Homo sapiens: one gene and its partners. The protein of the gene in region 4 purifies or fractionates together with the protein of the main gene of each other region. This does not show direct contact. Each region holds a gene or a part of one and is shown on either strand. Other genes may lie near its edges.

Region 1 (7,033 bases), on a different chromosome or scaffold from region 4:
ATGTATATTCTCTCTTCCATTTCTGAAGGACTTACTGCACTTGGTAAGCACCTGAGGTGGGTGGGTGAGTTGGTGGGTTTGTTTTTTACCACTTAACTAAACAGAAAGAGAGAATCTTGCCCCAGTGTCCAAAAAGATCACCACTGCCTTGGGGGTTTGGCCATAACAATAGAGTATATAATGCACAGCACATGCTTATCCAGCACACACTCACTGATTCCCTTCCTAAGTACAAGGCCCTGTGGAAGCACTGAGGATACGGTAATTAACAGCATATAGTCCCTGTCCTTAAGGGGCTTATCTGGTGGGTAGAACAGACACATGAACAAACAACTGCCTGTTTACCATACTTACCACTTAAACATTACAATAGGGGTGAGTACAAAGTGCTACACAAGCCCTCAAGAATACCTAGACTCTTGGTTGTGAGGAAGTCAGGATCAAGGAAGACTGGCTGGAAGACTTGGCATCAAAGCATAAACCTAAAAGCTGGACAGATGTTACCCTGGTTAGCCAGGGAGGGTTCCTAGCAGCAGAGACAGCAAGCACTTGCACCTGTAGGCAAGAAAGAACCAGGAAATCCAGATGGCTGGCACACTAGTCCAGAGGAGTTAGGAATGAAATGAAGCTTTAGAGATAAGCAGGAGCAAATCTGGAGATCATGAAGGGGGCCCGCCTGTAAGCCGTATTAGGCTGTTTGAATTCTGTCCTGAGGGCCGTGGAAGCTGGGGAAAGGTTTCATGCAGCTAGCTCCATAAGTTTTTTCATCCTAGTCCATATGGTTTCTGTCAACCATTTTGTTTCTAGGCTACCTTCCAACAATTTTTTTTTTTTTTTTTTTGAGACGGAGTCGCTCTGTCGCCCAGGCTGGAGTGCAGTGGCGCGATCTCAGCTCACTGCAACCTCTGCCTCCCGGGTTCATGCCATTCTTCTGCCTCAGCCTCCCAAGTAGCTGGGACTATAGGCGCCCGCCACCATGCCTGGCTAATTTTTTTGTATTTTTAGTAGAGACGGAGTTTCACTGTGTTAGCCAGGATAGTCTCAATCTCCTGACCTCATGATCCGCCTGGCTTGGCCTCCCAAAATACTGGGATTACAGGCATGAGCCACCGTGCCTGGCCCAACAATCTTAGTAGGTATATGTGTTCAGAGAATAAAACACATTTTTATATTAGGCTGAGCAAAACATAAGTAGGAGGATTAAGTCAACTGCCAAATAGTGATGATATGTTGCAAATACACTTTTGGATTGTCAACTGTGGTGAATTATCCATGCCTCTGTGCGACTTTGATACACATTTACTTCTATCAGTCTATCAGGGTGCATAGCCGTATCTAGTACAGTCCAATCAAGGTATCAGCCCTTGCTTTGGAAGACTTTTTTATGTCTTATTGAAAATACAGGGACCTGGCCGGGCGTGGTGGCTCATCCCAGCACTTTGGGAGGCTGAGGCGGGCAGATCACAAGGTCAGGAGCTCGAGACCAGCCTGGCCAATATGGCAAAACCCTGTCTCTGTACAAAAATTAGCTCGGCGTGGTGGTGTGTGCCTGTAGTCCCAGCTACTCTGGAGGCTGAGGCAGAAGAATCACTTGAACCCGGGAAGTAGAAGCTGTGGTGAGCCGAGATCGTGCCACTTCTGCACTCCAGCCCGGGCGACAGAACGAGACTCCGTATCAAAAAAAAAAAAAAGAAAGAAAAAGCAAGTAGAGGGACGTTTGCATAAACTATCAGTCCCGTAGGAATCAGAGACTTGTTTACTCTTTTAAGGGTTCAGCCCCTTTGTCCTTTGGCCTTACCTCATCAGAGTTCTGTCCACAGGTTGTGCTGTACTGTTCCCTTTGTAAAGACGCATAGATGAGTCTGCAGCTCCCCCCAGAGATGCTTTGGAGATAAACAGATAATACAGCATACCGTGTTCTAACAAACCATAAACATTCAGGGGCTACGTCATTCTGGGTTTAATTACATCCCACTGGTAACTCAGAGCATAGGCTCATACCCCAGGCTTCTTGGATTCTAATCACAGCTCCTGCAATTACTAGCAGTTGATCCTTAGGCCGATACATAACCTCTCCTAATTCTGGTTTCCTCATTTGTAAAACAGAAAACCTAATTCCTGAGTTCTTGAGAGGATAAATTAGAGATAACACCTATAAAGTACTTAGCACAACATCTGGCACAAAAGAAGCACTTGCTGAATCAAACTATTTGTTATTTTGTGTGAGGCAGAAGATGTACGTACATCCACAACACATTGAGCCGATAATTTCAGTATTCTTTATTACCACATACTCACTTTCAAACTTAGAAATTGAGCCCTACTGTACAATGAGGTTAAGAGGTTAACAGGAGTCATCTTGAGCAACCGCCTTGGTTGAATTGGCCACGGTACCCTAATGGATCTCACCCAAAGATAGTCCATATTTGTCCAGGCCACCATCAGCAGCTCTGTCCTACCCCTGCCTTTCTTTCTTGCAGACACCATGGTATGCACAGGCTGCTGCTCCTGCCTGGACCACATTGTGACATACCTCTTCAAGCAGCTGTCACGTAGCACCAAGAAGAGGACCACACCCCTGAACCAGGAGAGCGACCGCTTTCTGCACATCATGCAGCAGCATCCAGAGATGATCCAGCAGGTAAGAAAGTGGAGGCTTAGGAGGCAGTGATGGGGTGTCCGACAGAGGAAGGACCTCTGCAAGACAGGGGAGCCCACACACGATTAACATGACATCTCATCAGGTTCCTGCTGCTGAGATGAAGTCCGTGTCTTAAAGTTGCAGTGGATTTTGAGTTTGCCAAGTAATCACTGGATGTAGAAAACGCTCAGGTTCTGGATTATTCTTCTGAGTGTCACAGTGATCCCTATGCCCTGGACCTGTCTCATGATCACTATCCTCTTTCTGTGAAAATTACTTTGCTCACCCACTGCTATAAATAGAGCAGGAGTTAGCAGCATCCAGCTTTCTAAAGGCTTGTGTTCCTGTTTACAAAACAGGAAGAAGAATGCAAGACAGAAGGAAATAACTGGCCACAGAGAGATCAAACCATATGCTTGCCCTTATTTTATTTGTATGTGCCTTGAAGTAACTTACAGAAATACATGCTAGATGAAAATAGATAAGGAAATGGGATCAGTAATTATTGAGATTTTAGCCAGTCTTACCTTTGTCCACACCGTTCTCTAAAGAAGCAGTGAAATAATTCAGGACTCCATTACATTCACAAGATGTCATAAAGCTGTCAACTCCGAGTACCTGGAAGGGATCATGCAAGGTGGTTTTGCTTACTGTAATTTTGTTTACGTGACCCCATCCCATTCCCCACAACTCAGGGTGACCTGGAAAGATCCATTGGTAAGTGAAGTTCAAACCAATTTTAAGAACAAGAAAGGAAATGAATATCTTAGAAGAAAAGGTAACCTTGAAATAGAAGACTCAGATGAAGCTTCACAAACTATTTGTCTGATTTACCCTATACAGAAAAGGCCTTCAGCCTAATATACTCCTGTATTTGGAATCTGTCGTTTTATCTTGGGTAGCAATACATTAGGTCACTGCCTGAAATTCTCCATTCCATTTTCAGATGCTGTCCACGGTGCTGAACATCATCATCTTTGAAGACTGTAGGAACCAGTGGTCTATGTCCCGACCACTACTTGGCTTGATATTGCTTAATGAAAAGGTGAGAGAGCCAGCTCCCTGGTGCCAACCCAGAAGCAGTGGCAACCACGCACTTGGTATCACCAAGCCCTGGGAGAAATGTGTATAGAAACACCCCACGGTGGTGAAACAGGGAAAATGGGTCATTTACTGAGCAAGTCCCATTTGTGCTTTCAGTATCACATAATCATTTAACTGTTAGAAGTCAGCATGTGTGGTAGCTCACAGACACAGGATAAAGGAGTGTTTCCCCTAGGCAGTAAGAGAAACCTTTCAAGGAAATAATGTACCTGGGTATCAGAGGACCTAAGACCTAAGTTCTAGTTCTAGCTCTGCTATAAACAAGTCTTGAGATTCTGGTAAAAGAAAGGTCTGGATAAGATGACCCTTTTAAAGTGCTTTACAATTTAAAAATTCTTGATATTCTTAGTAGGATGAAGCCATATTATCCCACAAGTGCTTGCCTGAATTTCTTTTTTAAGGGTCCAATTTTAGTAGACATTCCATTCCTCCTTAGAGAAGAACATTCTTCAACCCTGCAGATGACGGAGGGCTAATCTGCCTTCCCCTGCTTCTCTAACCTTCTGTTCCACTCCTTGCCCCACAGTATTTTTCTGACCTAAGAAACAGTATTGTGAACAGCCAGCCACCGGAGAAGCAGCAGGCCATGCACCTGTGTTTTGAGAACCTGATGGAAGGCATCGAGCGAAATCTTCTTACGAAAAACAGAGACAGGTGAGTATAAAGCGTCCTGCCTAGAAATCTCAGACAATTGCTATTTTTCAAATCAACGAAACAGGCAGTTGCTTTAAAGTCTTTGACATCTGTGTTTGGAGGCCATCTAAAGCAATGCAATGCAATAGAAAAGTGAGCCATGTTAAACAGGCAAAATTCATTTTAATAATATATTTTATTTAACCCATTGTATCTAAAATATTGTATCAGTGTGTAATCAGTATTTTAAAATTGTGGGTTTTCACATTCTTTTTGTACTACATTTCCAAAATCCTGTGTACTTTACATTTAACAGCATATCTCAGTTCATACGTTTTCATCAGAAATACTTGATCTGTATTTAGATTTCATAAATTTACAGTTGACAAAGTAGATTCCTGTAATACCCAGATTGTTTCAAACACACCTAGGGACTTTCCAGTAACTGCATTGAGTATCTGGGCTTTGCAATTAACTTTTAAATTTTATTTAATTTTAATTAATTTAAAACAAGGCATTTTAATTTAAAATTAAGATGCAGTTGGGGAGCTGAATGTTAAATTGTATTTAATTTGGATTCATGTTCTCAGTCACACTGGCCATAATTCAGGGGCACGGTAGCCATATGTGGTTAGCAGCCGCCCTATTGGACAGCATAGCACTGCACCACCTGGTCTTGCTGCATTAAGAAATGAGATGGCTTCATTGGCTTACTGCCCTCACGTGTGAGGGCAACTTCCTACTTCTGTCAGTGAGATTTCTTTTGTGCTGCCATGAGCCCAAGGTAGCCCTCAGGGCCCCAGATTTGACCAGATCTCTAAGCCAACTTTTCTCTTAGAGTCTTAAGACTGAAATTAACTGATCTTTGAAACAGAACCCATCAATTCATACATTCTACTTCCCATGCTTTAAAAAAAAAAAAAAAAAAGGCAAATACCTTTCCCCCCCACTCTCCTCCCCCAACCCACATGCATCCTCTCTGCAGGTTCACCCAGAACCTGTCAGCATTCCGTCGAGAAGTCAACGACTCAATGAAGAATTCCACTTATGGCGTGAATAGCAATGACATGATGAGCTGACACCTCCTTGGACTCTACCTGTACAGAGCAGCGTCCCTTTGGTTTGGCCCAGAGGGGCGAACAATTGCAAGGGAGAGGGCCTGGCTGATCCTGGCTCTTTTCTCCAGGGGTGTGGGGAAAATGGCAAAGGTCAACTAGCTGCTTCCCCAGGGAATAGGGGTGTGAGTACACTCACTAGGGGGCAGGGCGCTGCTGGTTCCTGGGGGACTGGGTGGGAAGGGTGGTGGGAGGAGATAAGAGATACAAACTGAGACTCCAGCCTCTCCTCCTGGGGCCACCCAAGTGGGGAGAACCCCTAGTGTCCTGCCACAACCTGCCTTGTATAAACATGTACATTTTTTCATAACATTTTGAACAAGGTTTATATTGACTCAAGTTTAAAAACAAAAAGTGTGACTGAAAAATTTTTACAGAGTCTAGTGCACCAATGCTGATGTGAGGGGTTGTGTATGCGAGTGAAGAAAATGTGTATTCTGGTGGCCTGAAGCTTTACTGGACAAGGATGTGTGAGAGTGCAGAGATATATTTAGTGACACAGTAGAGAGGCAAAAAAAAAGCTAAAATTCCAAATGTATATTTTTTCGTATTGCCCTGTCCTCACCCAGAAATGATCAATTCCTGTTACTGTATTAACCCTTGTTATTAGGAACTCTAAGCCATGCCAGAACACCGTCCCTCCCCTTGGACCGTGTAGATTCTGCCCTGGGTCCCTAGCCCCTTGCAGTGATAAATAACTCCAGCTAAAAGTGTTTGGTGTTCTTATCTCCACCCTCTTTCCTACTTTGCTTACCCTCATCCTCAGACAGATGCCTCTTGCTTTTAAAAGTTGGATTTAACGACGTGTTGTAGGGTTCTTGGTCTGTGTGAAGGCAGAGACCAGAGAGAAGGAAGTGAGCCCACTGCTCTCCTGGGAGCAATGTGGGTGAGTCCACCAGAGGCCCTGCTGTGTGTGGCCAATAAATTTTAGTCTTCCCCAGCCCTCGAGGCAGTGTGTGTGGATGTATGCGTGTGGATATTTATATATGTACCCTGCACTCATGAATGTATGAACTGGAGGAAGTTACTACAGTGGAAGGGTTCTTAATAACAAGGTCTACCTAGCATGAAGTATTTAACATTCTCCCATCCCTTAAAAAATATACATTTTTATAAAATGAAAACCATAATAAATGTTTTGAATATTAAAAAAAATAATAACCTACAGAGGAAAATTAATGGAGACAGCTATTTGCCTTGTACTTTTTCCACAATTGTTGCTGCTAGTTGTACACATCTCTAGTTCAGCTCTTGCCCACGGGACACTCATCAATTAGGTTTTATTTTTATTTCTTTCCTCTACCCCCAGAAACAAGCCTGTTAATTTTTTTTCCTTCTCCTCTGGCGACTGTGTGATGAATCCTTTCTTGCGTGATCAGGTTGCGGATAGACTTGTAAGGGTGTTTGCTGCATACAGTGTAAGCATTGTGACCGCCAATAAACTTCAATGGTTTCTACTGACCTGGCTTCAGCAATCATGTCCAGTGTGCGTCCAAGGACATGTCTCACTCAAAACACATGAAGCTGTGTGAAACATTCT
Region 2 (7,000 bases), on a different chromosome or scaffold from region 4:
ACAGAAGGGGCAGGAAAGGCAACTAAATAGAAACTCCATTAAAGCTTCAACTGTGACTCAAATTCGAAAAGTCCTGCTGAATTGCATCTTCTGAGCCAGTTTTCTTAAAGCTAGAAATAACTATATAACATAATAGTCAAATGTGAATTCTAGATTTAAAAAAATAGCTCCCAATGATGTGCTAGGAAGCAGTATACTTTTTTCTGTATTTCAATTAGATAAAAAGCAAATTAAATCTTTTTTATATTTCATTTTCCTCATTAGCAAAGTTTTTGAATAATTTTAGAGTCTGCAAAATTTTCCTAAGAATTATGCAAAACTTTAATCTTTTTAACTACTCTCATTTAAACACAGTTTGGTTTGCTTTTAGTTTTAATAAAGTTTATATACTTTTTAAAAACTCATGAAGGAAAAATTCTAAAACACGGAAAAATAGGGAGAGTATAGCCCCATCACCCCAAAATAACAATATTAATATTTTAGCACAAGCTTATTTTCAAAATTAAGTATGCATATTTACATGTATACGTGAGAGGCCCCATAGCTCTTAATTTCTTAAAGGAGTCAATGAATGAAAAAATTAAGCATTTTAGATCTAGTCTAAGATGATGCCCATTTTATAGAGGAGAAAATGGAGTTTCAGAAAGGAAAACTGACTTGCCAAACAACAGCAAGAAACAGAACCCTGAACAGAAAGGTACAGTCTCCCAAATCCTGGGCTGAATACTCTTTCAAATACCATGAGACGTTTTATTTCATTTCATTTAAGATTTTCTTTGCATCCAACCACTGAGTCATCTCTCTATCCAATTAAATATTATTGTGAGCCAGGAGTACTAAGGACACAGAGATAAAAATAGTCCTGCTCAATGCCTAATGGGAATTATCAATACACACATGCAAACACAGAAAATTTTTTAACTGAAATGTTTTACTTGGTGTACATGCAAAATGCAGTGGGAGAGTGTAGTGGTGTAAGACAAGTGTTCCGTACAGAGAAGTGGCAATTGAGCTAACCTTGAAGAACGACTTAGTGTTAGACAGGCAGAAGAGATATCAGGGAGTAGGAATAAGAATGGGAAAATAGCAGCTAAACTGCAAAAGAGCTTAGAACAGGAAGGCAGGAGATAAGACCAGATAGGTAAGTCTGGAGACCTTGAAAGAAAAGGAGTTTAGGTTTTACCTATACAAGATGAGGAACCACAAAACCATTTTACCAAGATTATTCCACAATTAAAACTTATATTTTAGAGAAATCATTTCTTGTGCCAGTGAATGGCAGAGAAAAACAGTAAAAAAAAAAAAAAAAGGGTCGGGGGGGCATGAGCCAAAACCAGAGTAGTAACAGTGAGGATAGAGGGAAGGGGCATGAAAAATATTTAGGATAAGAATAGGCTATTCCATAAAAAAGAGAGCAAGGAGTCTAGAATAACACAGACAATTAATAATAGTGTTGCTATTCACAGAGTACCTTCATATTTTCTAGGATCTGAAATACATCTTAAATTGCTACCAAGGCCGGGCATGGTGACTGGCTCATACCTGTAATCTCAGCACTTGAGGAGGCTGAGGCAGGCAGATCGCCTGAGCTGAGGAGTTCGAGACCAGCCTGCGCAACATGGCGAAACCCTATATCTACAAAAAAGAATACAAAAATTGGCACACACCTGTGGTCCCAGCTACTTGAGAGGCTGCGGTGGGGAGAATCACTTGAGCCTAGGAGGCAGAGGCTACAATCAGCCAAAATCGCCTCGCTGCATTGCAGTCTGGGTGACAGAGTGAGACCCTGTCTCAAAAACCAAAACAAAATTATAAAATTGTTACCAAAATGCTTCACACTATAGATTACCAACTATAGTTCTCAAAAAGCAATTAATGTTCAACCAAAATTGACAATATAGGAGAAATGGAAAGGGGAAAAAAAAAAAAAAAGGAAATGCTGAACTGTTTATGAAAAGCTGGGTTTTAACAGCACATGAAGCAGAAACTGAAAAGTCTTGGATTTGAATTTCTGACCAACAAGTCTTCCTTACAAAGATTTTAATTTCAGAAATAATTTTGGAAACCTACTGATACAGGAGTTAAGTACAGCTGGCTCTCTGTATCCATGGGTTCCATATCTGCAGATTCAACCAACTGCAAATCAAAATTATTTGAAGAAAAAATTAAAAATAAGAATACAACAATAAAAAATACAAACAAGAAACAATATGATGTAACAACTGCATACACAGCATTTCCATTGTATTAGGTATTATGAGTAATCTAGGGATGACTTAAAGTATACGGGAAGATGTGTGTAGGTTAGATGGAAACACTAGGGACTTGAGCATGGTGGGGTGGTATCCTGGAACCAGCCCCCTATGGCTATCAAGGGACAACTGTATCGTATTGCTTAGTAAGTAATGGTTTTATAAAATATTCTTGATATAAACTTAAGTGAAAGTATAATAAATAATGTCAAATGAATTTTGCAATACAAATAACTGGCTTGATGCTACAGGAAAGCAAATTGTGTGCTGGAACAACTACTTGTTAGTGTTTATCTTTAGAAGTGGGAAGCCCTGGTGAGTACCTAAAATATTATTTATTTTTTAAGAGAACAATCACATCTTCAACTCAGCCCTTTAAAAGATTCCAAAGACTGCTGTATCATGGCTGAAGCATTTTAATTTCTGGAAAGATTGTAAGAATAATATTTAAACTTACTTGTGTTAGCTCTTCAGAGAAAATGAAAACATCAAATCTACGGCTATATATTCCATTAACCAGCTTAAGGTAATCACCTCTAAAACAGTGGATTCTACTTCTCACACATAACACACACAGAGAAATAAAAAATGGAAGCTACCAATGGTGGGAGCCAGGTTTCTCACTAGCAGACAAACAAGTGACCCTGTAAACATACTATAAAAACAAAATGGTTATAAAATACTTTGCCAAAACTCACCACAGAGATTATCGACAGAAACAATAATGTTGGCCAGGTGCGGAGGCTCACACCTGTAATCCCAGCACTTTGGGAGGCTGAGGTTGGCGGATCACTTGAGGCCAGAAGTTCAAGACCAGCCTGGCCAACATGGTGAAACCCCGTCTCTACTGAAAATATGAAAATTAGCCGGATGTGGTTGGTGCATGCCTGTAATCCCAGCTACTTAGGAGGTTGAGGCAGGAGAATCACTTGAACCTGGGAGGCGGAGGTTGCAGTGAGCTGAGATTGCACCACTGCACACCAGCCTGGGTGACAAAACTACACTCTGTCTCAAAAAAATAAAACAAAACAAAAAACAGCGCTGGGCACGGTGGTTCACGGCTGTAATCCCAGCACTCTGGGAGGCAGAGGCAGGCGGATCACGAGGTCAGGAGTTCGAGACCAGCCTGGCCAACATGGTGAAACCCCATTTCTACTAAAAATACAAAAATTAGCAGAGCGTGGTGGCAGGCGCCTGTAATCCCAGCTACTTGGGAGGCTGAGGCAGAAGAATCGCTTGAAACTGGAAGGCGGACGTTGCAGTGAGCCAAGATCACACCACTGCACTCCAGCCTGGGTGAAAGAGCAAAACTCCATCTTAAAAAAACAAAACAAAACAAAAAAAACCCAATAATGTCACCTACTATCAATATGAGCTTAACGAAAATTTTTATGTCAGTTGTGACTGAAAAATGTGATAACACTAAACAATAAAAATTCCTATGATAAAGAAAATGAAAAATACAAGCTTAAAAAAGGAAGTAAAACTCCCTAGAAAAAAAAGGGAGGAAAAAAACATTTACTCTTTTGAAAATGAAGCACAACTCTCTTAGTCGTACCTCTGCAATCTAGTATCATGACTGAAATGTCCTCACATCTGAATTTTCCAGGTGTCTGAAGCCTACTTCTTTATCCATCCAACTTCTTCTTTTTTTTTCTTTTTAAAAGGAAAACCTTTCTAAAATACATTAAACATTCCTGACCCTTCTTAAGCAGACCACACTGGAACCTCTTCTTGACTGTGACATCATTGAAAACACAGTTATCCTCTCAGGGCCATGAAACACATAATAAAGCTGTTTCAAATCACCCTACACAAATCGGCTAGTGTGATTTGGTTGAGTCGGCTTTTAAAGCTTTCCTGTTCCCTCCTTGACCACTAAGCTGCTACTGTCACTTCTCACTATTGTCAAATGAGCTTGTCTCTAAGAGCTCATCACCTTGTGTTTAGATTGCCATAAAACCATTCTAATTTGATAGGAAACCTAATATTGAAACTTGTTTGAACTGTATTTTTTGTTAAGTTTAAACACAAATGAAAGAAATGCATGAGCTTTAGTGCACTTAGAGCGCTTAGTGAGTGGAGTGCATGAGCTTTAATGCATGTACGAAGGTGTTCTGAAATGGTTCCATCTTATGTGTTTACTTCTTATTTCTCTCTGTGGTTCCATATAAGGAAAATTTCCAGGAAAACTGAACTCCAGATTTCAGATTCTACTAAATCTTTTTTAACATTTTCTTATTAAAAGTAAAAAACGCCCTCCTTCACACTCAGATCAAGTAAATGGTATATGATATTGTAGGCAGTAAGTATAAAAATACTTAAGTATATGGACATATTTTTCTATTAATGTTGAAACCTTTTCCTCAAATTGCTAAAACATTACAACATTTGCTTTTCTAACATTGAAATTGTTTTCAAAATTTAAGCTAACAATATTATTATGCTGTATAAAGCTGTCACAACCTACTATGATTTCACTAAAACCACACTCACAGACACACGAAAGGTACTCTCTTCATGCCAAATTACATTCATTCTAAAAGTGAATGGGCAGGTAATTACAAGGTGAGACTCCAACCATTAGATTAACTCACAGACCTAATTCCCAAAGGAGATATATATACATATACTGGATCAGAAAGAAATTCTTATTTAAAAATTAGGCCATGCTGATTCATCTTTAATTCCCTATTTTTATTTCATCTACTTTCAACTGATTTGGGAAATTATTTCATTTTTTTACTCTAAAGCCTTTAAAGGGCCTTTTTTTATTTACCAAATCACAGTAATTCATAAACCACAGGTCATGTACCAAATCACTAATAGTTAACTAAAAGCTACTCATTTGATATTTACTCCACACTCATACTAGGGTTGTTGTATTTTAGGAAAAGAATAACATGAATTTTACCATAAACCTTAATTATACACATTGACAGTATTACAATTTTAATCCATTTATAATTACCACTTACTACCAAAGGGGAACAAGAGAAATAGGAATGAGGTAAGTTAAGGAACTACAAATTAATATGCTTCTTATTTTTATGTGACTTAGATATATTAACAGCAGGACCAACTTTGGGGCTCTAAACTTAAAAAAACAAAAAAGCAATGAAATCTTGAAAGTACTCCTGACAAAACAATACCTCCAGAAAGAACATCCACATTAAAACAGGAACAAAACAAGGAGTTCACAATGTTTATCAGATCACAGTATTAAATGTCACTTCTGGGAATATTAATTAACAGCACTAGACAGCTAAGAAAGGTATTTCCTCAGTTAATATGAAATCTCCTTCCAAAAACTTCCATTTTAGTATTTTCTAAAGACAAACTTAATGAATAAGGTATTCATTATAGTATTAATGTTTGATGGTATTCCTTATGGATAAGGTACATTTCATAATTGTTAAGTTCTGTGAGATGCACAGGATACCTGGTTCAGATTTCTACTGATCCCCTGGAGAGATTACAAAGGCCCAACTCTTCCTGTTGTGTAGAGAACAGAACCAATTGGTACGCACTTGGCAGGCCAGAGTTTACATTAGCCATGCAGTAAAGAGTGAAGAATTCTGACAGGGGGGTGGTTAAAAATCAGAATAAGTTATTTAGAGCAGCTGTGAGAGCTCACTCTCTTTAATAATAGAACAGACTCTTATGTGCCGTGGAATGATTTTGAAGTAATGCTATTCAAAATCAAAACTGGACAGCTTCTCAAAGTCCCTTCCAGACCCAGAGACCAAGAACATTTACATCCAACAATACTAGTGAGAACCAAACACATCTCTTCTGCAAAACACTATCTTTACTTAATTGGAGGATATTAACAAGGTGGCTTTCTATGCAGTTGTGTGTTTTGCTAGATATCTGGGTCTTTTTTATCTGCATTCTCCTTGCTTCTACTGAACCGGAAGTTAACAGCTTTCACTGTTCAAATATTAATTTTTAAACCAAACCCTAATTACAGCAGGGCCTCAAACTGATTTACCTAACTAGCTACATGACCTTGGACAGTCTTTTCTTGTAAAATGAGAGGCTTGGACTAAGACCCACTAGAATGTAAACACCACGTTCTGTTCAACACTCTACTCCCTGCCCCTGGGACAGGAAGGCATTAAGAGAAAACCATTGCTATCCCCAAACTACAAATATAAAAAAACTTAAGTCATTTCTTTCTTTTCTAATCAATTAGATTTTATTCTGTTTTTCCCATTTTTAAAGAAGACAATGACACTGAAATGTCCTGTGCAGCAAATAGAAATGTATATAATTTAAAATAAGGTACTCAGTTTTTAGAAATAAAAAGGATTAACTATATAATAGCTGACAATCTTCACCCAGTTTTTTTACTCTTCTTCCTTCCCTTTAACCCATTACTGTGTCCCATTCCTTTTTCCTTTGAAAGAGAGCCCGAAAGAGTGCAGGACTTCAAGCAAAAGGGCCTGAGTACTAGCCCCACCTCTTCTATTAACTGACTCTGTGGGGACAAGCCACTTCCCCTTTGGGGCCCGAAAGGGTGCATCTGTTAAACAAGGGAGCTGCACTAATTATTAATTTCTAAAGTATGCTTCTTTTTAAAAAATCTGATTCACCTTATATTCTACCCATTATTCGATTCTTAATGGTTGGTGCTCACCACATCATTGCACAGTAGCCTTAAAATATGTCTTTCCCTCATTATTTCTCCTTACTATCCATACTGTTACCAAACAAATTTAATCCTAAAACCATGAGTTGAGCAG
Region 3 (7,220 bases), on a different chromosome or scaffold from region 4:
ATGCCAGCATTCTGCCAGGTGGACTTTAAACACTCAATGCTTAGGGTGCTCAAGCCAAGTGTTCACAAGTATACTAAGAGCTTTGAACAAAATACCTTTAGAAATTTGAGACCCAGAGCACTTCCAGAGGAAAATCCCAGCTCCTTGGAACAGTTAGTTCCAAAGACACAGGTTCAGAATGGAATTCATTAAATGAGGCCTTTCCCTGAACTCTAGGAACATTTGTAGTAGTGTTATTAAATTGTCAGGTGGAGAAGACAGCGGCTATCAAACAGAGTTCTCTCCAGCAAGCCTGCTTTCAAATTGTTAATTATGCTTTGATAAATAAAATGTAGTTAAAATGGGGCTTTAGAGACCATGAAGTTCAACCTCATTCTTTTGCAAATGAGACAACTTTGTAGAAGTTCGCCCAAAGTCTCCTGATCCTCAGTGCAATCCTTATAGTTTTATATCATGCACTGGTTTCATACAAACAGCATAAGTTCTGTACTCACACAGATCTGAGTTCACATCCCCACAGCACACACTGGTTTTCTGGCCTTGGATGGGATACTCCTTCATTCTGATACTGTTTCCTTATTTGCAAAATGGTGATAATACTATCTAGCCCACAAGATTGTTATGAGGTTTAAATATGCTAATCTATGCGACAGGATTTAGCTCAGTGTCTGCTGCATTTTAACACTGAATAACATTAATTTCATTGCCTTTCCCTCTACCCCAGGCTTCACATCACCCCACCCCATCCTAAGCGTTTATTGTTTAAAACAAGGGAAAGGTAATACAGTTGTATTTATTTTAGGATGCCAGTGGGAGCAAAAAGCACAGGCAAAGGACACGTATTTTCTTTCCATGGTTGCAGTAGTCATGGCAAAGCAGTGACAAAGAGAAGTGGGAAAGAAACCGTTCTTCAGGTGATCAGAGGAAACGCAGATTAGAACTGGAAACTGTCTGTGAAACCAACCCTTCAAGCGAGGAAGGAAGTAGTGCAACCTAGCCTGCAACACTAATTTTCTCTGGACATGCATCGTGAGAATTTGGTTCTCCCAGTTTTTTGGAAGGTGTCCAGTCCCACACAGCCTGAAGTCTTTCCAGTAATAGGAAGGCTTTTCTTATCCTTCATATTTGAATAAGCTCTAAACATCCTCTTCTTCTTCATGGTCTCGGATAAAATCCTTTAATTATAGCATCAAAATCACCAGGGGGAGATTTAAACATTCTACACGAGTTGGCCCCACTCTTGGTGATTCTGCTTCCGTAGTCCTGGGATGGGAATCTCAGGAAGTTATAGTTGAAAAAGCTCTCCAGGATAAGAAATCTGGGGTAAGGGTGGGAGAATGAAAATCCTCCCATGATTCATATGGTCTGTGTACACAACACTTCTCTAAGACTCTCTGAAGTTTTCCAACACCATGGAAGTCCACATTTCTTTAAGAGGGCAGCAGTCTTCAGAAAACAGTGCATCCGCGTGTCCTGGAGTGAACACAGGGATGCAGGTGGCTCTCTGCTAGAGGAATCCTTGAATGATCAACTTGCAAACCTCCCTCCCCTCGGACACAGGCCCACAGCTAAACCATCTCGGCCAGATAAGAAGACATCTTGGCTGGGCACAGTGGCTCACACCTGTAATCCCAGCACTTTAGGAGGCCGAGGCTGGTGGATTCCCTGAGGTCAGGAGTTTGAGACCAGCCTGGTCAACAGAGTGAAACCCCGTTTCTACTAAAAATACAAAAATTAGCCGGGCGTGGTGGCGCACACCTGTAATCTCAGCTACTTGGGAGGCTGAGGCAGGAGAATTGCTTGAACTTGGGAGATGGAGGTTGCAGTGAGCTGAGATAGTGCCACTGCACTCCAGCCTGAGCTACGAAGTGAGATTCTGTCTCAAAAAAAAAAAAAAAAAAAAAGAAGAAGGCATCTTAATCCTAAGTATGAAATGTCTATGTGTCAGGCCCAAAAGTCCCAAAGTTCCAGGCTGTGAACAACTCTGCCTATGGGAGAAGGGGGGACACTATTCCCTTAATGGCAAGTATCACCTCTGCCCCAGAGTCCCCATGCCACTTGCTCATCCTTCATCAAAGTGTATCAGGCCTCCAGGGCACCCCCAGGATTGGAGAAATGTGAGGAACAAGGCCCAGCAAGGCCTAAGCCAATGTCCTTGAACAACACTTGGTTTCTTTCTTGCTGCTTTCTAGTGCCAATAGCTTTATTTTTCTACTTTGGTATACTAGGATAGAATCACAAACTTTAGAGCTAAGGAGACTTGGAGATACAGGTCAGACCCCCTCCTGTTACAGAGGAGGAATCTCTCGTCTAGGGAAGGGCAAGGGATTGCCCCTACCTACTTTACCAAAAATAAACCTGGCATGAACTTGGCCTTCCCAGATAAACGACCAACGGCCCAACAGTCAGCCCAGAAACTCAGGTGGCAAACCTCTATAGTCCTTCCCAGATAGATCGGGCCCCACCTGCCCCCCCGCTCCTCATCCCAGGCAGGCTCCGCGCTGCCCCGCGCCCGCGCTGTGCTGTACCTGTCCCGCAGGTTGCCGCTGCGCAGCCCCATGGCCGTGCACTCAGCCTCGCTCACCGGCACCCCTTTGCAGGATTTCACCGGGTAGATCCAGAGCTTCGCCACGGTGCCCACCTGCTGCAGCCGCCGGCGCCGCCTGGGCCATGCGCGGCGCCAGGCGACAGTCCCCAGGGCCACGGCGGCCAGTCCTAGCGCGGCGACCCCGAGCCACCTGGGCCAGGGCCGGGCTGGGAGGCCGAGGCGGGCCAGCGCGGAGGAGCTGGAAGCGCCCATGGCAGAGCGAGGGCGGGCGCGGACCGGCGCACAGACCCGGCAGCGACCGGAGACCGGGAGGACGAGGAGGCCCTTAAGGATCCGGGCAGGCGAGAGGAGTCAAAGTTGACCCAACTACGGACCCTCTCACACTTTCACCGCCGAGACGGCAGAGCAGTTCCGCGGAGAGCGGGAATGCCTTAATGCGGTGACCAAGCCTGCGCGGTAATGGAGGAAGACAGGCAGACAGCGGCGGGGGTACCCTGGGCGCCGTGGGAGCGACGCCGCCCAAAGCAAGCGAGCTAATGGGGCGGCCTCTGGGGTGGTCAGTGTCTCCTCCCTCTTCCCCGCCCCTACAACACGACAGTTACCCATGCAACATGACCTTCAGCGCCAGCACTCTGCCACCCCCTTCTCTGCTAATACTGCACGCTTAGTCGCTCGACAAGATCACCGCAGAACGTGAAGGCGGGTTGCCCAACGGAGGATTTACAAACATTTGGGAACGACTTTTTCTGGCAGGTCGCTGTGAGAACTGCAGGACTTTCTGCACACAAAGACACAGTCTAAACCTCTGCACTCAAAGACGAGGAACTCTAGCGTGGCTTATAGGAGCATGACTCAAGGTCCCCCACCCTCCGCTGCCGCCTAACCTCGACCCCAGTAAAATGTCTTCCCGAGAAAGCTCAAGGCAGCCAGGAGAATTCCCCGTTTATTCTAGCCAACACCCGATGGTAAAGCCCCTGACCTCCCTTTTTTAGGATATTTTCTTAAAAGGGCTTACAACTGTGAATCCTTTCTCTGTTGCTTTGAGATGTATATGTATCGCCTACACCTCAGAAGTGTCTTTCTCAAGGACCTGAAAGCCATTGCTCTGAAATGCAGTCATGGGGAGGATAGGCCTCTGTCCCCCAGTCTCTGTGGGAGGATAGAATCCCAGCTTCATAACGGCCAGCTCCAGGCACAGCTGCCCGTCATTAATACTGACCGCCCCTTCATGATTTTTCACTTGATCCCCTGCTAGCTTCCCGGCCCTATTCTCTCCTTCACCCTTTAAAACGCCCATTCTGCTATGCACAAATGAGAATGATCAGCTTTTTCTCCTACTGTAAGTAGTTACTGAGTAAAATCTGTTTTCATGGTTTAACTAATGTCTGGCTTTGTTGATCTTTAACACCTCCATTCAAGCAAGCTATTGGGTTAACAGTGGATTTTCTCAGACAAATTAAGGTTTGAAGTCTTTCAAGTTTTTTGTTGTTGTTCTGTTTTTCAAAAGTTTGTCCCTTAAACTGTGGCACAGTTCTAGGAAAGTTTAAGGAGGCCAACCAGTGGGCCACCCCCCAAATCTGGGCTGGCCACCTCCAGAGAAAGGGGCCCGTTCTGGAGTGTGGGAAGAGACTCCGGGAAGGATGGAGAACCAGAGGAGCCAGGTTCCCTTTGGCTGTTCCTTGTGAAAAGTGAAAGACAAAACAGGGCCTGAATCTCTCCCCACCCAGGAAAAAACCTCAGGCCAGCAGAATTAGTCCCTCAATCCCCATACATTTACATCATGCTTGGCAGCTGCGACTTATGGATTTGTTTTTTAAGCATGGTGTGGTGAATGTGATGTGTGTACACTTGTAGCTGACCCCCTTTGCCTCTCCCAACTCCTGAGGAGGGTCAGAGTCCTCCCTGCCCACAAGCCTGCTGTCAGAGTGAGGGGCTTACAAAGCCATCGCCTCGCTATACGTGAGCTCCCAGACAGGGCAAATGTCTTATTGATTAATCATCTCTTTCTTTCACCACATAGATATTGATCATTCACCAGGCTTCGTCCTAGATTGGCACTGGGGATTTAAAGTTTAGAAGAAGCTGCCCTTCCATCCAGTTCACTGACTCCCCAGAAGACTGACACCTCCCCTGCAAGTCTAGAGGATAATGTCAGAGGAGAAGCAAGGTCAAGATGCAGAGGATGCAGAGGCAAAAGAGCAGCTGAATCTCAGGACAGTGCTGTTTTCAGAGGGCGGAGCTTTGGAGCTGAGACTTGAACATGAGGAGGGGCTTGGAGATGGGTAAAGGAGAGGATTCTGGGCAAAAGGAGCAGCACGTGCAATAGCCTGAAAAAATGGAAGGAACAAGAGAGTGTGGCATGTTTGGGCAACCACCAGCAATCCAGCTGTATTAGGATGTACCTGTGCATGCAGCAGGTGGCGGGAGTTGAGGCAGGACAGGTGGGCAGAGGTCAGATCAACAGGCATCTTATCTCTACTTAATGTGGAGACACCTCAGAATTCTGAACAACAGTCTGGCATGATTAGACTTGGGTGCTAGGAAGGCCATTCTGGCTGCTCTGAGAAAGAGTAACACCAAAGATGGTTAGATGAGTTGCAAATGCCCTAGTTCAGGCTGATGTAATTCCAAATCAAGGAAAAATAACAGTGGGGCTGGAGATAGACATGTGGTTAGGAGAGATGGTCAGGGGACAGAATTAACAAGAGATAGTGATGACAGAACACAGAGCCAGAGGGAGAGGAAGAGCCCACGGGGCCTCCTGGCTCTGTGGCATAAAAGTCTGGGGTGGGATGGGGGTACCATTCTCAGAGATTAAGAATTCAAGAGAAGCTGGGCACAGTGGCTCACACCTGTAATCCCAGCACTTTGGGAGGCCGAGGTGGGCGGATCAGGAGGTCAGGATATCGAGACCATCCTGGCTCACATAGTGAAACCCCGTCTCTACTAAAAATACAAAAAATTAGCCAGGCATGGTGGTGGGCATCTGTAGTCCCAGCTACTTGGGAGGCTGAGGCAGGAGAATGGTGTGAACCCAGGAGGCGGAGCTTTCAGTGAGCCGAGATCGCGCCACTGCACTCCAGCCTGGGCGACAGAGAGAGACTCCGTCTCAAAAAAAAAAAAAAGAGAATTCAAGAGAAGAAGATAGTCTGGGAAAAAAGATGATGAGCCTATTGTGAACAGCGAGTGAGAGGTATCTTTGAGACATCAAAGAAGAAATAGTTACCTAGATAGATGGGTAACTTGACCTTTCCATGCTTCCACCTCCTCATGTGCAAAATGATGGGGATAGACATCAAGTGAGGAACTTTGCCATGGTGAGTGCTGCCAAGTCTTTGCTGTCTTCACCAGCCATTATCTATCATAGCCTGCCCTGTTTAAGCTTCACCAATGCTGGGGTTGGGGGTGCCTTCAGGGGAGCAGGGAAATTCCTTATCAGTAATGTGTACATTTGCAGCCCAGCATCTTCATTTGTAGAATTAGTGAGGGGTGATGAGAGGCTGTATTAGTCCATTCTCACACTGCTATAATGAAATACCTGAAGCTGGGTCATTTATCAAGAAAAAATGTTTAATTGGCTCATAGTTCTGCAGTCTGTACAGGAAGAACGGCGGCTTCTGCTTCTGGGAGACCTCAGGGAGCTTTTACTCATGGTGGAAGACAAAGCAGCAGTGGATGTCTTACATGATAGGAGCAGGACCCAGAGAGAGGGGGGAGGTTCCACATGCTTTTAAACAGCCAGATCTCATGAGAACTCACTCTCAGGATGATAGCACCAAGGGGAATGGTATTAAACCATGAGAAACCAGCCCCATGATCCAATCACCTCCCAGCAGGCCTTAACTCCAACACTGAGGGTTGCAATTGAACATGAGATTTGGTTGGGGACACAGATCCAAACCATATCAAAGGTTGAGGATTCATGAGTCTAATTGGCTGTTTGCATATCTTTTTTCCCTTCTGATTTGAATCAACTTATCTATTTTTTTGTTAATTTATAAGATCCTTTTATAAATTAAGAAAATTACCCTTTTATCATGCCTTCCCAAGTCATAACTTTTTCCCCTAGTTTGTCATATTTTGGCAACTTCTGCTTAGGAAAAATCTTTCTAGTGAATAAGACATCATTGTCTGCCTAGAGGCACTGACATAGATAAAGAAAACTCTGTCAATTAAAATATCAACCAAGAAACCAGAGAAAAAAAGAAGCCTAAAACCCAAATATTACCTTGCTTAGCCAGGTCCTCTTCAGGAAGGTGAGTACCCAGCAGCCAATGGAAGTATTCATCAGGGCCATGTAGCAGTTTGTCTTTCCTGGGGAGATGAGCACATCAGATTATCAGGCAGTGAGGATAGTCAACCTTCAACCCATATAACAAATCTCATGACGCAGGCTAGGCTAAAATATTGTAACAACCTCAACATCTCAATGCTCTAACAAAATAAAAGTTTATTTCTCACTTACATCCCAGTTTGATGCAGGCCAAACATTAATCAAAGGTCCCCTTAGGCCAGGCCCAGTGGCACACACCTGTAATCCTAGTGCTTTGGGCGACTGAGGCAGGAGGATCACTTGAGCCCAAGAGTTCAAGACCAGCCTGGGCAACATAATGAGACCCTGTTTCTACAAAAAATTTAAAACAACAGAAAAAGAGAGAATGAGGCAGGCATG
Region 4 (7,495 bases):
ATCGCGCCACTGCATTCCAGCCTGGGCGATGACAGAGCCAGACTCCATCTCAAAAAGAAAACATCAAAAAAAGATACTCTGATTACACAACCTAAGGAAAAATGTAAACACCCTTTTCTAAGCTGCAAGGAAATTTTTCAGGCAACCCATTTTGTTTTTACATGTAAAAGTCTTACAAGTTGAATGGTAATTGTCTGATATAACTTTAAAACTGTATATGCTATAATCCATAACCACATTCCAGAAGCCTAAACTTTTAATATAAATCATTTCTATTAATATGCATGCATCATATCTCATTTATGTTCTCTGGGCTGTATTTGCAATCTGTTCCTTTTAAGGTACAACTGAAATCTTCTAGGAGCAAGCAAGGCCATGCTCAGTAAACGTATCATTGGACTAATACAGAACATTTGCACACTAGCCCAAATTAACCTCACGGGAGGCAAGGAACTAGGAAAAAATATTTTATTTATTTATTTTTTTTTTTTGGAAACAGGGTCTCACTCTGTTGCCCAAGCTGGAGGGCAGTGGCCCGATCATGACTCATTGCAGCCTCTAAGTCCCAGGCTCAGGTGATCCTCCCACCTCAGCCTACTGAGTAGCTGGGACTACAGGTGTGCACCACCATGCCCCACTAATTTTTGTATTTTTAGTAGGAATGAGGTTTCGCCATATTGCCCAGGCTGGTCTGGAACTCCTGGGCTCAAGAGAGCCACCAGCCTTGGCCTCCCAAAGTCCTGGGATTACAGGCATGAGTCACCATGCCTGGCCCTAGAAAAAAATATTTTAAATTGTATAAAATTTAACAAGCTATCAAAATGAGGCAACTTAGAAAGAATTCCTAGTAATTCCAAAAGAAAAAAAAACTAAAAAGAAAAAGCTATGTTGGGAAATGTGGTATCTGCATTGTCTCAAAATGTAAGCTGGTAATTCTCTTCAACAGTCCAAAATATTTTAAAACTGGGGTTTTTTTCAGAATGCTCATTTGGTTAGAAATTCTCATTTTGATTGGCTGAGTTGATCAAGATTTTAACTTTTATTATACACACACTCAGAAGCATGAGCTTATTTTATATATCCAATAACATCTCTTACAACTCTACAACTACAGAACTTAGTAGTGTTCTCAAAAAAAAAGGTTCTCTGTAAGCTCAAAACAGTTTCTACAATTGAAAGTTTATTACACACTCATTTGTGGGGAAAAAGCTTAGATGTTGGTGTCCAATGTTATATTTCTCAATGCATTTACTTAGCCAATGGGCAAAAGAAGAAAAAAAATCACAGGACACACACACTTATCTAAAAGAAGGATTAACATGAGAAGTCCTAACTAACCTGAATATTATGTTAATAAACATTAACTGTAAAACAATTTATTGTGAAACGATGAGTCATAGGCAGCCAAGACTACTATAAATAAAAAAGGCATTTTATTTAGTTTAGATTTAGCCTGAGTTCAAAAGAAAAAACTAAAATAAAAATGAAATATGCAACTTTCTCTAAGGCAGACAATTCAAGCTAAAAGAACATTGTTAGAAAGCCAAAGGCTGAGGAAAACAATATCTTTTAAAAACCGCCCATCAGATAACTTTAAATGGCAGGTGCAATCTTCTTGTGAAATAGAAAGCATAGTACTTTCTTCCCCTACATTATAAAATGCTACTATCGAGTATGACTAACAGAGAATAAAGGTACCATGTGACCCAAGAAGGGTGTGTATGAGAAGTAGGGGCAGAAAGACGGGGCTGAGAAAAGCTGCAAAAAGCTTTCAATTTCCTAACTCTGACTCTTAGAGACCAGAGCTTACCTGAATACATTCTGCTGGGGATTGGAAATCATGCAGAAAGGTCTGTGATTCCAAAACGTTAATACATTTATTATAAAGTAATCTTGGGTAAAGATATGTTGCCTTAAGCAAAGAGTTAACTGTTCATAATACCCATTTGAAAAATCTCTCATTTTGTTTGGGAGAAATAATTGATAAGTCCATCAAAGTAGTTTAGTAAGCACAAATGGAGAACTATGTAGAAAGAGGAACTATTATGAAATGTATGACCGAGTGTGTTTTGTGTAAGACTAATGGAGGTTTTCAAAGGTTTTTCGTTTCTGGCTATATACAAAAATAAAAATAAGGGCGTTTTCATTCATTTAAACCAGCAGTAAAATACTGCCTGGTTTATGCCGCTTATTTTCACCTTACAGTCTTAATACACATTCCAAGACTGATGCGATATTCATTATTTCTTTCGGATAACTGGAAGAGGAGGGGGAGTAAAGCTGTACATTAAACAGTCCACTTGGTAATTGAGAAAATTCAGCAGTGAAATATATCATGAGGCACCAAAGAGATTTGCCGGGGAGGGCAGACAAAAGAGAAAACAGCCACAGAACATTAAGCCCCGGAAGAGATGAGAATCGGTCCCATATACGTAACTCGACGACTGGACAAAACCCCGCTTGACGCTGCCGGTGGGTGAAACGAGGTGATTTGAGATTCAGGGCGTTCTCGGCTCTTTCCCTCTCTCGAATCGATCATCTCCAACAGGAAGTCAGAGCAAGGCAGGGTTCGGAGTCAGAGAAAGCTCCCGGGGGAGTCTGTCTACCACGACAACAAACTCCTAAGGCTCCTTCCGGAGCTCCACAGCCCTCTGGGCGGCCTCTCTAGCGCTGTACTTCACGTCCCCGCTCCCCAAAAAAGTCGTGCACCCCGACTTCAGCTATCCGCGTTCAAGAGAGTGCGGCAGCAGTTGGGTCGGCCCCCTCAGCGGTCCCGGGCCGTAAGGGACCTGGCGGAGCGGCTCAGGGAGGCTGAGACGGCGGCTACACGACTTTCATTACCTTCTCGCGCTGATCCCAGCTGTACTGCTTTGGCCGCTCCTCCTCGTTCTCGGGCCGCGACTCCTTGTCAGCCTTCCGTCTCTTGGAGAAGAAGCAGCCCATGGTCCCAGCCCGCGGAGCTCGTTGGCCAGCTCACTAGCTCAGGCACTTCCTAGAGTGTGGCGTGAACCCTGGGAACCCCGGCCTCGCAGCTCTCCGGACAACGCCCCGCGGAACCGCCCAACGGTCCGCAGCCTTAGTTTGCCCGCCAGGCCCAGCACCCCTTCCCCTTTTTCGTCGCCCTGACGACCCAGCGCAGCCAATGAACGCTCAGCGCCTGTTGAGCCAATCAAAGCCTCTCGAGCAATCCTGCGCGGCCTATGAAGAGAGGCCGACATACCCACATACCAATCCACGCCTGGCTCCTGCGACAGCCCCTGGCGGCGGGGCGGGCCGGCTCTGGCGCAAGCACGGACAACCCCGCCCACAGCTGTGGCACGGACCGCCCTCGGCCCCGCCCCTCCTGGAACTTGGTGGGTTCTCTAGCTGGTGGGAGGCCAGGCTCGGTATCCGGGTTTTTTTTGCCCCTGATTCATAAATTTGCAAGTTCAAGGCGCGGGAGAGATCTCTAGTTGAACATTAGATTTATCTTATGATGAAAGTTGTGAGGGACAGAAATTCCCGCTGACACAAGAAGACCCTGAAATTTGTATTTCTAAATCCTCTTCTCCCCTCATCACCCTTCCTACCGCCCTCTCATCGCCTGGCCAGGGTCACCCCCTCAAGAATTGTACCCCATAACCTCCCAATCCTCTTCTGTGCTCTTTCTTTCTTTCTTTCTTTCTTTCTTTCTTTCTTTCTTTCTTTCTTTCTTTCTTTCTTTCTTTTTCTTTCACAGGGTCTCGCTATGTCACTCAGGCTGCAGTGGCACAATCATAACTCACTGCAACCTTGCAACTTTGCAACCTTGACTTCCTGGGCTCAAGCGATCCTCCTGCCTCAGCCTCCTTCCTGAGTAGCTGGAACTACAAGCAAGCACCACCATGCCCACCTATTTTTTTTTTTTTTTACTTTTGTAGAAATGGGGTCTTGCTATGTCGCCCAGGCTGGTCTTGAACTCCTGGGCCCAAGCGATCATCCTGCCTCAGCCTCTCAAGGTGCTGGGATTACAGGCAGGACCCACCGCACCCCAGGCTGCTTCTGTGTTTTCTTAAGACTTTCACATATGGCTCTAAAATTGCACAAGTACTTAGTAAAATAGTTAATTGTGTATTGTTTCCCTATTTGAACTGTGACTTTCTTGAGATCAAAAAGGTATATCTTTTTTTTTTTTTTTTTTTTTTGATGGAGTTTTTGCTCTTGTCGCCCAGGCTGGAGTGCAGCAGTGCCATCTCGGCTCACTGCAACCTCCGCCTCCCGGGTTCAAGTGATTATCCTGCCTCAGCCTCCAGAGTAGCTGGGACTGCAGGCGCCTGCCACTACGCCCGGCTAATTTTTGTATTTTTAGTAGAGACGGGGTTTCACCATGTTGGGCAGGCTGGTCTCGATCTCCTGACCTCAGGTGATCTGCCCGCCTCGGCCTCCCAAAGTGCTGGGATGACAGGCATGAGCCACCGCGCCTGGCCTAAAAGGTATGTCATAAAGGGCATGCAGGGCCGGGCGCGGTGGCTCACGGCTGTCATCCCAGCACTTTGGGAGGCCGAGGCGGTAGGATCATGAGGTCAGGAGATCGAGACCATCCTGCTCAACACAGTGAAACCCCGTCTGGTGAAACCCCGTCTCTACTAAAAATACAAAAATTAGCCGGGCGTAGTGGCGTGTGCCTGTAGTCCCAGCTACTCGGGAGGCTGAGGCAGGAGAATTGCTTGAACCCAGGAGGTGGAGGTTGCAGTGAGCCAAGATGGCGCCGCTGCACTCCAGCCTGGGCGACAGAGGGAGACTCTGTCTAAAAAAAAAAAAAAAAAAAAAAACCAGAGCCGGGGGGGGCGGGCACGGTGGCTCACGCCTGTAATCCCAGCACTTTGGGAAGCCAAGGCGGGCGGATCACAAGGTCAGGAGTTCGAGACCAGCCTGGCCAATATGGTGAAACCTCATCTCTACTAAAAATACAAAAATTAACCGGGCATGGTGGCGGGCGCCTGTAGTCCCACCTACTCGGGAGGCTGAGGCAGGAGAATAGCTTGAACCCAGAAGGCGGAGGTTGCAGTGAGCCGAGATGGCGCCACTCCACTCCAGCCTGGGCGACAGAGCAAGACTCCGTCTCAAAAAAAAAAAAAAAAAAAGGCAGTGGGGAGGAAAGCTGAGGGGAGGGATGTACCTTTGAATCTCCTACACCTGGCCCAAGTCCATACTAGGTGCTCAATACAACGTTTGTCAAATGAATGAATGCATGCATGGGTGCTAGTGAAGGAAGCATTTATAAACTTCCCCCATCCCTTCCCAAAGAAAGTGACCAAACTGTGGGGGTGGGAGGCATGTGGATTTATGGTAAAGGGGTTCTCCTCATGGAGTTTATAGCCTCGTTGAGGACATAAGCATTGCATATGAACGATCAGATCTGTTCTAAGCAAATGGCATAGGGTTCGTCAGAATATATTTAAAGATATATACACTAAATATAAACATTTGTTATACTTGGGTCGAATTTTACTGCAATACACATGCATTGCCTATGTAATAGAAAAGAAAGGTAAGTCAGTTTCTCTGAGAAACAGTATTTTGACATCTCAGTAGGATATCAAATGCTGATCACTTCAGGTTCAAATTTGGTTATCTTTTAAATTTCCCATACTTATTCACATCTAGTTTGTATCCTAAATGAGCCTCTGACTTTTTTTTTTTTTTTTTTTTTTGAGACAGAGTCTCGCTTTATCACCCAGGCTGGAGTGCAATGACATGATCTCAGCTCACTGCAACCTCCACCTCCCAGGTTCAAGCAATTCTCCTGCCTCAGCCTCCCGAGTAGCTGGGGCTACAGGCGCACAAAACCACACCTGGCTAATTTTTGTATTTTTAGTAGAGACGGGGTTTCACCATGTTGGCCAGGCTGGTCTCGATCTCCTGACCTCAGGTGATCCACCCACCTCGGCCTCCCAAAATGTTGGGATTACAGGCGTGAGCTACAGTGCCCGGCCGACTTAATTTGAACATAAAGAATGTTCCCCTTTTTACTTCCCGTCCTTTATTGCACAATCGGGAAGAAAAGTACATGTGCTTAAGTATTAGAAATTACTGCAAATTTAAGTTCCAGATCTTAGGCAATAGAGTCTTTACCCAGTGCACACTTTTTCTCCTTCAGAGTGAGATGAAAGTTTTATGTGAAGATGTTTTTGGATAAGACCCTCATTCGATATTTTATAATCTATTATTATATTTATAATCTATGGTCTATGATTATAAAACATCTGTGACCAGATATAAATATATAACTATGACCACTACTTAGTGTAGCAGAGGAGGCAGAGATCCAGAGAGGTGAAGGGATGAATCTGTGGTCACGATGAGAGTGGCTGAGCAGGGACTGGAAAAATCCACATCCTGTGTTTCCCAGTGCCTCCTCCTGCCTTAAGTTTGTTCCTCTCTAATTCATCTGAAATAAGTATCTGCCTCGGCCTTCTGATGCCTATGGGAGCTCTGTCCCACAGTGATGCTATTCCTCTTAATGAACAAACAATATAACAAAACTAATTCTAGAGAAACAACCTCTGAAACTCTCACTGTTTTGAAGTATTCATTAATGAGAAAAGCTCAAATCTACAATAAAACCTATATCCAAGAGTGATCTTTTCAGGGACCCTTAAAAGTGAAGATAAAGTCCCTTTTCTGTTCATTCCCATCCTACCATCACTCTTGACCAAAAACAAAATTACAAAAAGAAAATTAAATCAAATGTTAAGAACTGGGGACTAGAAAGCTAATGAACAGAGCTAATACTAGTGCTGTCTCATCCTTTTTCTTTCTCTCTTATTCTTTCTTTCTTTTCTGCCCCATCTCTTTTTCACCTGTCCCCATGAATTCTCATCACTACTTATTTTTGCAAACCAGCTCTCTACTTACTCATCAGCATTTACATGGTTGACAACAGCTATCCCACCCTGATTCCTCATGGCCTTTCTGTCCAAGGGCATGCTACAGTCTCAGACTCTCAAGGGAGATAATCATATACATTGCTGGCCAGTCAATAACAGATTGGCTCTAGGTTGGTATGCACCCCTGGTCCCATTGCTGCAGCTGCAGGGGCGAATTCCAAACATGGGTGTTACAGATATGGGTGGGAAGCAGGTCCTGAAAAGGGAACGCTAACTCTGAAGAGTTCAGGCAGAAGTTGGTTGCTTGTTCTGCTTGTGCTCCTCCTGCTATTTATATTCTAGTGATTTCTTTTCTATAGAAGGCTGCCCTTCCTGTTCAGCTTGATGTATCTATTCATCTATATTAAAATGTTGAGTTGTGGGTTTACACCTGGCCACAAGCTCCAGAGATGGCTCTGGGTCCCCTGAGTCTTGACCACAGAAGTGATATAGTTACTTCTCAGAAGACAGTCCTGGCCGGGCACGGTGGCTCACACCTGTAATCCCAGCACTTTGGGAGGCCGAGGCAGGTGGATCACTTGAGGTCAGGAGTTTGAGACCAGCTTGGTCAACATGGTGAAAATACTAAACATACTAAAAATGCAAAA

What was found.
Region 1: the proteins of RP2 (region 4) and XPO7 purify together in Homo sapiens (affinity purification with mass spectrometry; 3 studies listed by BioGRID and IntAct, with this or other methods). This does not show direct contact.
Region 2: the proteins of RP2 (region 4) and USP24 purify together in Homo sapiens (affinity purification with mass spectrometry; 3 studies listed by BioGRID and IntAct, with this or other methods). This does not show direct contact.
Region 3: the proteins of RP2 (region 4) and MTARC2 purify together in Homo sapiens (affinity purification with mass spectrometry; 4 studies listed by BioGRID and IntAct, with this or other methods). This does not show direct contact.

The regions. Positions count from the first base shown.
Region 1 is NC_000008.11:21,999,632-22,006,664, forward strand, and holds the end of XPO7 (exportin-7), read left to right. Parts: coding exon 1-43; intron 44-2,480; coding exon 2,481-2,641; intron 2,642-3,587; coding exon 3,588-3,686; intron 3,687-4,271; coding exon 4,272-4,399; intron 4,400-5,363; coding exon 5,364-5,457; 3' UTR 5,458-6,954; downstream 6,955-7,033.
Region 2 is NC_000001.11:55,205,365-55,212,364, forward strand, and holds part of USP24 (ubiquitin carboxyl-terminal hydrolase 24), read right to left. Parts: intron 1-7,000. UniProt on the Homo sapiens protein: Ubiquitin-specific protease that regulates cell survival in various contexts through modulating the protein stability of some of its substrates including DDB2, MCL1 or TP53.
Region 3 is NC_000001.11:220,744,112-220,751,331, reverse strand, and holds the start of MTARC2 (mitochondrial amidoxime reducing component 2 isoform a precursor), read right to left. Parts: upstream 3,011-7,220; 5' UTR 2,801-3,010; coding exon 2,529-2,800; exon of another isoform or gene 2,517-2,528; intron 3-2,516; exon of another isoform or gene 1-2. UniProt on the Homo sapiens protein: Catalyzes the reduction of N-oxygenated molecules, acting as a counterpart of cytochrome P450 and flavin-containing monooxygenases in metabolic cycles.
Region 4 is NC_000023.11:46,832,549-46,840,043, reverse strand, and holds the start of RP2 (protein XRP2), read right to left. Parts: upstream 3,002-7,495; 5' UTR 2,944-3,001; coding exon 2,842-2,943; intron 1-2,841. UniProt on the Homo sapiens protein: Acts as a GTPase-activating protein (GAP) involved in trafficking between the Golgi and the ciliary membrane.